Linked DNA regions of Homo sapiens. The protein of the gene in region 1 purifies or fractionates together with the protein of each later gene. This does not show direct contact. Each region holds a gene or a part of one and is shown on either strand. Other genes may lie near its edges. The genes, in order: ASAP3, CRKL and ACAD11.

Region 1 (3,651 bases):
AATTTCTGTTCTCTGACACCTGCGAACTAGGTGTGAGCCTTGGGTCACTGTCCTTCTATCCCTCTGGGCTTTAGAATTCGAAGAGTCTGGCAGAAAAGGAAGTGTGGAGTCAAGTATGGCTGCCTGACCATCTCACACAGCACGGTGAGGCCTAGAGGTGGTGGGAGTCTCAGGGCACGATGGACCCTCTTCTTCTGGTGTTCTGAGCAAATAATGTCAAGCCCTCCCTCTAAGACTGGCCCCCAAACCTAGGTCCAGGGAGCTGGAGACCCGTTTGGGAGGACAGATGGGACCTGAAGGCCCCAATCTAGTCTTAGTCTACACTTCACATCCTTGAGGTGCTGCTGGGTGAGGAGAAACACAAATGGAACAGGATGATTATGCCCATTTAACAGAGTGGGAAATGGAGGCCTAAAGAATGTGGAGGGCCAGAGGTAATGCATACATCCTCCGCCCCTAAATTCCCACAGATAAACCGGCCCCCGGTGAAGCTGACCCTGCTGACGTGCCAAGTGAGGCCAAACCCTGAGGAGAAAAAGTGCTTCGACCTGGTGACCCGTGAGTGGTCCCTGTGCCTCTCCCCCACCCACAGCTGCTCAGGGCTTCTCTAAGACACCTGTCAGCTCCCGGGGGGCTTCAGTGAGGGGTCTGTGTCCAGTTCCACACATGGTGTCGAATTGCTGCTACTGCAGACATAAGAATCCTTAGGTCTAGGATACCCACATCACATTAAATGTCAAAATGCACCCACTTTACATAATAAATGTGGCTATTTATACAGAGCATATTTGAGTGGATTTGGGTCATCTGGGTTTTGAAATTATTTCTTTTTTTAAAATTTTACCTTTTTTTCCCAAATACCCAGACTTGAAGGAGATGAAATTATTGTTTCTTTACATTTTCTACTTTTCGTTCTTCAGAGCCTTTGGTGCAGGCTTTGTGTGAGAGCAGACACAGGCTGAGAAAGACCTAGATCTTGTCCTCAGGAAACTCTCTGGCAGGGGTGTGGGGTGGGTACCCAGGACTGTAAGATGAGGGGGCTGTCCAGAAGATGGGTGCAGATATAGCCCCATAGAAGATTAGGGAGCAGGAAGGCCTGCACTGCTGTGGGGAATCAGGAAAGGCTCCTGGAGGAGACAGTATTTGAGTTTAGCCTTGAAGGACATGTAGAATGAAGAGTTTGTGGGGTGGGGGCTTTTGAGGAGACAGGATTAGCATGATGAAAGGCATGGAAGCAGGAGAGTGGGTCTGGCCGGTTTGGCCAGAGTGGAGGGTTCATGTAGCAGAGTGAGAGATGAGGCCTGGAAATCCCTCTTAAAAGTTTGGACCTTATTTCCTGGCAATAGAGAGCCATGGGAGATCTTGGGGCAGGGCAGTGGTGTAATTAGAGCAGAGCCTTGGGCACAACAGTTGGGAGCTGGTACAGGCTAGGGGAAAGGGGAAATGGGAAGCAGGGAGACCAGACAGGAGGCCTGGTCGCCCAGGAGGAGACCAGGAAGGGCCCAGTGGGGTGGTGACAGTTGGTTCAGAGGATGCCCTGCCTCAGAGCTGGGTTCTCTGGGGTTCCAAGCCCTTTGAGACCTCGTCTGAGCCTGGAACCAGGGCTTCACGCAGAGGGAGCTTTGTTGGGATCCTACTTCGGAGGCCAGTTCTGAGAAACTGCCCCTGGTGCTGGCCACTGTCATTCCACTCCCTTCCCACTCCTAGCTTGAGAGTCCGACTTGTCAGGGACACATCTCCATGTGGCCCCAGCGGCTTTGGTGGGGGCTCCCTGGGCTCCGGGAAGGCCAGCAGCATTTCTGTGGGTCAGAAGCCCCCTTCTCTCCCGACAGACAACCGGACGTACCACTTTCAGGCAGAGGACGAGCACGAGTGTGAGGCGTGAGTGCCCCCTCGGCCAGCCCGGCCAGCCTTGTGGGTGGGGGCCGGCGGCCCTATCTCTTCCCACTTGACATCCCCATCCCACCCCGTTCAATCTCCGCAGGTGGGTGTCAGTGTTGCAGAACAGCAAGGACGAAGCCCTGAGCAGCGCCTTCCTCGGGGAGCCCAGCGCTGGCCCGGGGTCCTGGGGGTCCGCCGGCCATGATGGGGAGCCGCACGACCTCACAAAGCTGCTCATCGCGGAGGTGAAGAGCAGGCCTGGGAATAGCCAGTGCTGCGACTGCGGGGCTGCAGGTCGGTCCCCGGGGCCGGGGCAGGAGGGAGGCTTAAGTGGAGGGGAGGGGCTGCACCTCCAGGCTCCAGCTGCTTTCCTCTGCAGACCCCACGTGGCTCAGCACCAACCTGGGCGTGCTCACCTGCATCCAGTGCTCGGGCGTCCACCGCGAACTGGGCGTGCGCTTTTCGCGCATGCAGTCACTCACCTTGGACCTGCTGGGCCCCTCCGAGTTGTTGGTGAGGGCGGGGCGGGGCCTGGAAGGGGCCAGAAGCGGAGTTAGGGGTGTAGTTTCATCCGGGGGCGGGGCTTGCAGGTTGTGGGTGGGACCTGGCCGAGGTGGGCTGGGACAAGCCAGGTAGCGGGTGGTCAGGGGCGGGGCCTGAACCGGGAGGGCGGCCGAGGGGCGGGACTCTGGGGGCTTGGAGCTCCACCCTATGCAGGCTTAACCGCCCGGTCTTACTCCGCCCCACGTCTATTTTCCTACGACTCCAGCTGGCCTTGAACATGGGAAACACGAGCTTCAATGAGGTCATGGAGGCCCAGCTACCCTCACACGGCGGCCCTAAACCCTCAGCTGAGAGTGACATGTAAGGGGATTCTCAGAGAGAGGGGCACCCTGCCTAGGGGATTCTGCCTCCGCAGTGTCCAGGGTCGTAGAAAAGTCTTGGATCAGAAGTCTGGGGAGGCTGGGCGCAGTGGCTCACGCCTGTAATCCCAGCACTTTGGGAGGCCAAGGCGGGCGGATCACTTGAGGTCAGGAATTTGAGACCAGCCCGGCTAAGATGGCAAAACCCCGCCTGTACTCAAAATACAAGAATTAGCTGGGCGTGGTGGCACACGCCTGTAATTCCAGCTACTCAGGAGGTTGAGGCACTAGAATTGCTTGAACCCTGGAAGCAGAGGTTGTAGTGAAACGAGATTGCGCCACTGCACTCCCTCCTGGGCAATAGAGTGAGACTGTCTAAAAAAAAAGCCTGGGGAGAGGGGAGCCTCAGATCTAGACGTCTTCAGGACATGGTTCTGGAGAAAAAGAGAGCTGTATCTCCTGTGGGAGGGCCCCAGGGATCAGCTGGGCAGACACGGTCCATGCTCTGAGATCCTGTGGTTGTTTTTGGTAGGGGCACCCGCAGGGACTACATTATGGCCAAGTATGTGGAGCATAGGTTTGCACGCCGGTGCACACCTGAGCCTCAGCGACTCTGGACAGCCATTTGCAACAGGGACCTCCTGTCGGTACTGGAGGCCTTTGCCAATGGGCAGGACTTTGGACAGCCGCTGCCAGGGCCTGATGCACAGGTGAGAACCCCTCCAAGGGCCACTTATAACCCACCTGTCTAACATATTCCCCAGTTCTTCTCCAGGACCAGCTGTTACTCCCCTCCACCCCACCTCTGACATCTGCTCAGATCTCACCCATCAGAGTGGTAAGTGGGAAAGAGCACAGCTTCAGTCAGGCAGACCTGGGTGGGAATCCTGGCTCTGTTTTTTCCTAG
Region 2 (3,651 bases), on another chromosome or scaffold:
CACATTAGGGGGCCGAGGCAATTGGATCACCTGAGGTCAGGAGTTTGAGACCAGCCTGGTCCAATATGGTGAAACCCCATCTCTACTAAAAATACAAAAATTAGCCGGGCATGGTGGTGGGCGCCTGTAATCGCAGCTACTCAGGAGACTGAGGCAGGAGAATCACTTGAACCCGGGAGGTGGAGACTGCAGTGAACCGAGATCATGCCACTGCACTTCAGCCTGGGCGACAGAGCGACACTGTCTCAAAAAAAAAAAAAAAAAATTCAATTCCAAGATGAGCTAAGTACTTCTCTAGTGAAACTGCTTTAACCACCATTCTTTTTTTTTTTTTTTTTTTTTTTTTGAGACGGAGTCTTGCTCTGTCACCCAAGCTGGAGTGCAGTGGTGCGATCTTGGCTCACTGCAATCTCTGCCTCCCAGGTTCAAGCCATTCTCCTGCCTCAGCCTCCCGAGTAGCTGGGACTATAGGCGCACGCCACCATGCCTGGCTAATTTTTTATATTTTAGTAGAGACAGGGTTTCACTGTGTTGGCCAGGCTGGTCTCGAACGCATGAGCTCAGGCAATCCACCTGCCTCCGCCTCCCAAGGTGCTAGGATTACAGGCGTGAGCCACCATGTCCAGCCAGTAACCACCATTCTTTATCACTGACCAGCATTTAATGCCCAGGTCCCCTCCCTTCTGTCCCTGGGCTTTCAGGCCATCACTAATGGCTCCTCCTCCTATGCTTGTGGCTGCCTCTCCTTCCGCAGCTTCTCTTTCTCTACTTATTCCTGTTCTGCCTCCTCATTCTGGGTGATCCCATCTAAGCTGCGATTCCCAAATCTATATGTATTCAGCCCTTACCTCTCTTCTCAATAACAAACCCATCAGATTGCTAAATACCACCTGGCTTCCAGCAGGTACCTCAAAGAAAGATTCTTCCTGTTGAAAAGAATCACGCACCCACCCTAATCCCTTTCTCTTGTCTCAAAGGCACCACTCAATCCTCTCTGAAGTCATCATACCTCTCCCCTCACCTTCTATGTGCCACTTTACATTCCTATGGCATTTGATCTTGGCTCAGCTTCTCAGGGTCCCTCTCCAGTAACAGAGAATTAGTCCTTCAGATCTTTCCCCACCCAGAGCAGTTTCTCAAAAGTAAAACTCATCAGTTCTCCTTTTAAAATCTGACAGTTCTCTTTTTAAAAACTTTAGATGGCTCCCATTGTTAAGCTCATTTACAAGGCTGAGGAGGCCCTTTACAAGTTGGCTTTATCTTTCCTTCCTAGGTTCCTGCCCATCATCTACATTAATTATAACTGTGTCTTTACCAGCAAGCACTGCCACCATCTCTTCTACCACCACCTCTTCTACCTCGTATACTTGTTCTCATCCTTAAAGAATCAGTTGAAGAGCATCTCCTCTTTCAAGCCTCTCCCCACCTCTTAGGTACAGTTGATTGCCTTTGCTTTTAAGCTGTCATGGCATTCTAATTTTTTCAATAGACCAAAGCTTCTCAAAGACAAAAATCAAAAACAAAAACATGGTTTACTTCCATTAGATTCCAAGAGTCTAGCAGTGAGCTTTGGTATATTGTAGGCCTCTATATATCAAAGAACTTCCCTTTCCTATTTCCCTCCTTTTTTGTTTCTGAAAGCACAAAAGCTCAGGTATTCAAATTACCTAACTCTGGTTTAATACTGTCACAAAACTGGTGTGACAGAATTCGAATACCGTTGAGTGTGCACCTTCAAAGCCTCTTCTCATCCTCTTCCACTGTTCTTGTCACGTTCATTCCAGGTGAGTTGCTATGTGCCTGGTGGCCCCACCCAACTTGTTATGATTTTAGCTCAGATTCAACTCAAGTTAATCTGAACTCCCAACTAATAGGCTGTGCCCCCTTTTACTTATCTGAAAGAATTAAAATAATGTTTTTTGTTTGTTTGTTTTTTGTTTTCCGAGACGAAGTCTCGCTCTGTTGACCAGACTGGAGTGCAGTGGCGCTGGCGCAATCTCGGCTCACTGTCATCTCTGCCTCCCAGGTTCAGTCTCGAACTCCCGACCTGCCAGACCTCCCAAAGTGCTGGGATTACAGTCGTGAGCCACCACGCCCGGCCCAGAATTAAAATATTTTAATCTTAAAGACCCTCAGAAATCTAGTCTAATCATTCAGATCAAAAGGAAAAATTTAGGTCACAATTCTGTGGATTTGAGTTTTAAAAGTCACAAATCGAATGGCTACTAGTACTTTCCATGGGAACACAACTCTTTTTTTTTTTTTTTTTTTGAGACGGAGTCTCGCTCTGTTGGCAGGCTGGAGTGCAGTGGTGTGATCTTGGCTCAGTGCAACCTCTGCCTCCCAGGTTCAAGCGATTCTCCTGTCTCAACCTCCGGAGTAGCTGGGACTACAGATGCATGCCACCACGCCCAGCTAGTTTTTGTATTTTTAGTAGAGACGGGGTTTCACTATGTTGGCCAGGATGGTCTTGATCTCCTGACCTCATGATCCGCCCGCCTAAGCCTCCCACAGTGCTGGGATTACAGGCGTGAGCCACCACATCCGGCTGGGAACACAACTCTTAATTGGACAAGATTCCATTCTCAGCATGACAGTGTTCTTGTTTTTTGTTTTTTTGGAGAGAGTCTCACTCTGTCGCCCAGGATGGAGTCCAGCTGCACGACCTCGACTCACTTTAACTTCCACCCCCCAGGTTCAAGTGATTCTCCTGCCTTTAGCCTCTTAGGCACACGCCGCCATGCCCAGCTAATTTTTTGTATTTTAGTAGAGACAGGGTTTCACCGTGTTGCCCAGGCTGGTCTCAAACTCCTGCACTCAGGCAATCCACCCACCTTGGCCTCCCAAAGTGCTGGGATTACAGGCGTGAGCCACTGCACCTGGCCATGTTCTTGTATTTTTCTCTGAATCAAATTCACATGATTTTAACTACTGGTCAGGAGAAACGCAAAGGGGTTTATTCACAGAGTTGAATTCTATGCTGATTAAAATTACTGGCAATCCTTTCCCCATTCCAAATTATGGAAGTCTAGATTTGAGTTCTTAAATAATTAGAACAGGGGATGTAAAGAGGAGGCACAACCATGCTTCTTGTTTCCTCCTGTCCCTTCAGGGATTGGCTTCTACTTCACAGGTGTGTGAGGCTCCTCTTCTGGGCTCTCAGGTTAGACTAAGCACCCTTTCTCAGTTCTCCCACAGCTGTTTCACCATGCATGGAGATTAAATATATTAAATATATACAACTTACATTCATTCATTCATTCATTTTTTGAGACAAGGTCTGGCTCTGTTGCCCAGGCTGAAGTGCAGTGGCATGATCATAGCTCACTGTAGCCTCGACCTCCCATGCTCAAGCAATCTTTCCACTTCAGCCTCCCAAGTAGCTGGGACTTAAAGGCGCATGACACCATGCTCAGCTAATTTTTTAATTTTTTGTGGGAATGGGGTCTCACTATCTTGCCAGGGCTGGTCTCAAACTCCTGGGATCTAGCGATCCTCCTGCCTTAACCTCCCGAAGTGCTGGGATTACAGGCACGAGCCACCGAGCACAGCCAACCTTTACATTTTTTTTTTTTTTAGTAGCCAGGCGCGGTGACTTACGCCTGTAATCCCAGCACTTTGGGAGGCCGAGGCGAGCAGATCCCCTGAGGT
Region 3 (3,651 bases), on another chromosome or scaffold:
CCCTTATTCAATAAATGGTGCTGGGATAACTTGCTAGCCATCTGCAGGGGATTGAAACTGCGCACCTTCCTTACATCTTAGCCATTTTTTTGACGTTTAATTGTCCTTTTATTTTCCTTTCTTTTCTTCTTTATTATTTTAAGTTCCGGGATACAAGTGCAAAATGTGTAGGTTTGTTACATAGGTATACAGGTGCCATGGTGGTTTGCTACACTTATCTACACGTCATCTAGGTTGTAAGCCCTGCATGCATTAGCTATTTGTCCTAATGCTCTCCCTCTCCTTGCCCCCACCCTCCAACTGGCCCCGGTGTGTGTTGTTCCCCTCCCCATGTCCATGTGTTCTTATTGTTCATCTCCCCACTTATGAGTGAGAACATGCACACCTTGGCCATTTTTATGCTTGGTCATGTTTGCCCTTCAACAGGGGATATTTGATTAGAGTTTCCCTAAAGCGGTGATGTTCAACATGATAGCTACTAACCATATGTGGCTAATGAGCATTTGAAACATACCTAGTCTGAACTGAGATGTACTATAAGTATAAAATATGCACCCCATATTGAAGAATAAATATTAAAATATAAAGTATCTCATTAATAATTTTTATATTGATTTCATGTTGAAATAGTATTTTTGATATATTGGGTTAAATAAAATATATTATTAAAATTAATTCCATCTTTTTCTTTTCACTTTTTAAAAATGTTGCTATTAGAACATTTAAAATAACATTTAAGGTTCATAGTATATTTCTTTTGGATGGCACTGCCCTAGAGGTTGAAACATGGCTCTGAATTAATTTCAAACAAGTTGCTGGTGGTGAATAAATATTTTTTGATGGCTGTAAAACAGGATAATTACAACTTTATAACTTCATGAACAGACTTAGAAGACATTTACTTCTCAGCTTTAGAATAAAGGAGGTATTCTCAGTTGGGTCTCTATAGACCCTAGATTTGCTGAAAAGCATTAAATGGGTAGAAACTAGGTGCTCTAGGGAACTGCCAAATATATTTCCTAAGACAGAACTGGGATGGAGAATTTTTTGCGTTACAGCCTGGAGTAAATTAGAAGGCAGCTGGAAGGAGCCTCCAAATTCAAAGAAATGAAATGTTCCTTTCACAAATTAAAATAAAAAAGCTGGCCCAGATTTTTGCTTATGACATGCTCACACATCTTTTTGTTTCTGCCAGATCACGTTATTTGTGCCAGATGTGAAAAGTTTCCAGTGAAAACAGGCATATTTGTTAAAAAGCCAGGCTTGCTCTGCATGACACATTAACTTTAAAAGGTGGAAGGGAAATTTTTTACTAATGCAGTATTAAAACACCACTCAGGAAAGCAGCACTTGCACAGAGGGCTTTTGTGCATTCGCGATGCTTGTTTGTCGACTTTACTGTGTCCTCCCTTCACCCTGCTCCAGAGTTTGCATGCAAGCTTGACAAAAGGGTAAGAAGTAATGGTTGGTGCCCTGAGCACCTCTTCATCCTTCTTCAACAGCATCAGAGGCTGTATCCAGGGCCCCAGAGGGTCACACTTTCTCACCTCCTCCCACAGTGCCCAGCCAACAGCTGAACTTTGCTGTATACTAAAAACTTGCCTTCGCTGTATACTAAAAGGGCTCCTGACAAATTATTCCCAGGTGTAGTGTCATAAAGCGGGCTGTAGCTTTTCAGTTAAAAAACTATACAAATAAATCATATAATGCTGAATAATACTTTACAAAAAGCAAACATAGATTATAATAATTTAAGGTAAAAAATACATACTGCAAATTTCATAAGATGGTCAAAAATGTATAAGGAGACCGACATACTAAAATATACATGTGCAGCAAACACAAATACAATTCCATCACCACAGATTTGACCTAACACTAACATGTTAGCAATAATAAAGAGTGAACATTTAATAATAGTTTTTCTTGCCTTCTTAAAACTTAGAAGGGAGATGATGTGGATATCCTACTTCTCTGTAGAAGACTTTTTAAGGAAGTCTGAAATAATACCTTCTATTTCATCTCAATACATATTTCCTAATTTTTTTTCTTTTTCTGGAGACAGAGTCTCGCTCTGTCGCCAGGCTGGAGTGCAGTGGCACGATCTTGGCTGAACGCAACCTCTGTCTCCCGGGTTCAAGCAATACTCCTGCCTCAGCCTCCCCAGTAGCTGGGACTACAGGTGCACATCGCCATGCCTGGTTAATTTTTTTTGTTTTTTTTTGTATTTTAGTAGAGACGGGGTTTCACCATGTTGCCCAGGCTGGTCTTGAACTCCTGAGCTCAGGCAACCCACCCGCCTCGGTCTCCCAAAGTGCTGGGATTACAGGTGTGAGCCACTGCGCCTGGCCATATTTCCTAATTTTTATTATATGGGCCACATGTAACTATGTTTACAGTGATTTGTAACAACAGACTCAGTAGTATATAATTTACAGATGATAATTCAAAAAGTCATGAATATCTCACAAAATGTTGGTCCCATTTCTACTTGTGTTTCTCCAGTGACAGAATTCAAGTCCTCCTGAAGAAGCTGATTCCACTTTTAGGTTTATTAGCATGTTTCTCCTTTCCCTGAGTTTTGGGCTGTTTTCCTGTAACTTTACACTTATGTGTCCTAATTCCTTCTAGGAAACCAATGGACAAGGCAAATCCTTCTTCCTTATGACAGCTCCTTCATGTCCACAGGGAGCTCTAATGTTCCAGGTTCTCTAAAGAACAAGAATCTGAGAAAGTTGAAGGAACTGTCTACACTCTTGTGTGCAGAGGTGTTGAAGCATTTTAGGAACTATTTAATTTTTCATAAAGATAAATACCTCTCATTAGACTATATTTAAATACAGACATAAATATGCCTTATTGAAAAGAATCACCCGGTTCATGTAGAGAAAGTCTGTCTCTCACAAGTAATGTTTTTGTTCAATGTTAGTGTAGTGCACCGGGCTACAATAAATTCAAATAAGTAATCGTCCTCACATGTGCATACAACTTCTTCTTGAAAGCTATCCTTTGTGTTGCCCGCTCACACATGATCTGCAAAGCGCGTTCCGCCAAACCTACTGTTCTCATACAGTGGTGGATTCTGCCAGGTCCAAGGCGGCCTTGGGAAATTTCAAATCCCCTACCTTCACCTGGGAAGAAAGGGGAAAAAAAGGGGGAATGTGAAAATGGCCTAGCCCATTCCTTTTGTTATTTATACAAATCCTGGGAAAGAGATGAGCTGCCCTTAATAAAAATGGCTTTCTAGTGAAAAAAAGTCAGTTCTATAATAAGGTTCACTATGAATTCATGGGAATTTTGATTTCTATGTTTTTAAAACCACCACCATTAAACATTTCAAATTTCAGAACTGTCTCTTAAGTATGTACTATGCATAAGCTATTTTATTAATGCTGCAATAGATACAAAGTTGGAATAACACATAGTCCCTGTACTAGGAGTTTAGAATCCAGAAGAGTGGGTAAGGGTAAGAGATACAGAGAGAAACAAAGGCAAAGGAAGAAGAGATTTTCTGTTCATCATTATAACCTCAGGGCCTGGCAGGTATCAGGGGCCTGGTGAATGGATGGGATGAACACAAAAACATTCCTGGAAGAGGTGGTATTCTAGATGTTCTTTGAAAGGGATATAGTATTCTAATAAGCAAGAGGA

What was found.
Region 2: the proteins of ASAP3 (region 1) and CRKL purify together in Homo sapiens (affinity purification with mass spectrometry; one large-scale study listed by BioGRID and IntAct). This does not show direct contact.
Region 3: the proteins of ASAP3 (region 1) and ACAD11 purify together in Homo sapiens (affinity purification with mass spectrometry; 2 studies listed by BioGRID and IntAct, with this or other methods). This does not show direct contact.

What each region holds. Positions count from the first base shown.
Region 1 is NC_000001.11:23,435,654-23,439,304, reverse strand, and holds part of ASAP3 (arf-GAP with SH3 domain, ANK repeat and PH domain-containing protein 3), read left to right. Parts: intron 1-74; coding exon 75-144; intron 145-470; coding exon 471-558; intron 559-1,832; coding exon 1,833-1,881; intron 1,882-1,984; coding exon 1,985-2,175; intron 2,176-2,260; coding exon 2,261-2,394; intron 2,395-2,650; coding exon 2,651-2,745; intron 2,746-3,276; coding exon 3,277-3,454; intron 3,455-3,651. UniProt on the Homo sapiens protein: Promotes cell proliferation.
Region 2 is NC_000022.11:20,923,807-20,927,457, reverse strand, and holds part of CRKL (crk-like protein), read right to left. Parts: intron 1-3,651. UniProt on the Homo sapiens protein: May mediate the transduction of intracellular signals.
Region 3 is NC_000003.12:132,572,796-132,576,446, forward strand, and holds part of ACAD11 (acyl-CoA dehydrogenase family member 11), read right to left. Parts: intron 3,132-3,651; coding exon 2,977-3,131; intron 1-2,976. UniProt on the Homo sapiens protein: Acyl-CoA dehydrogenase, that exhibits maximal activity towards saturated C22-CoA.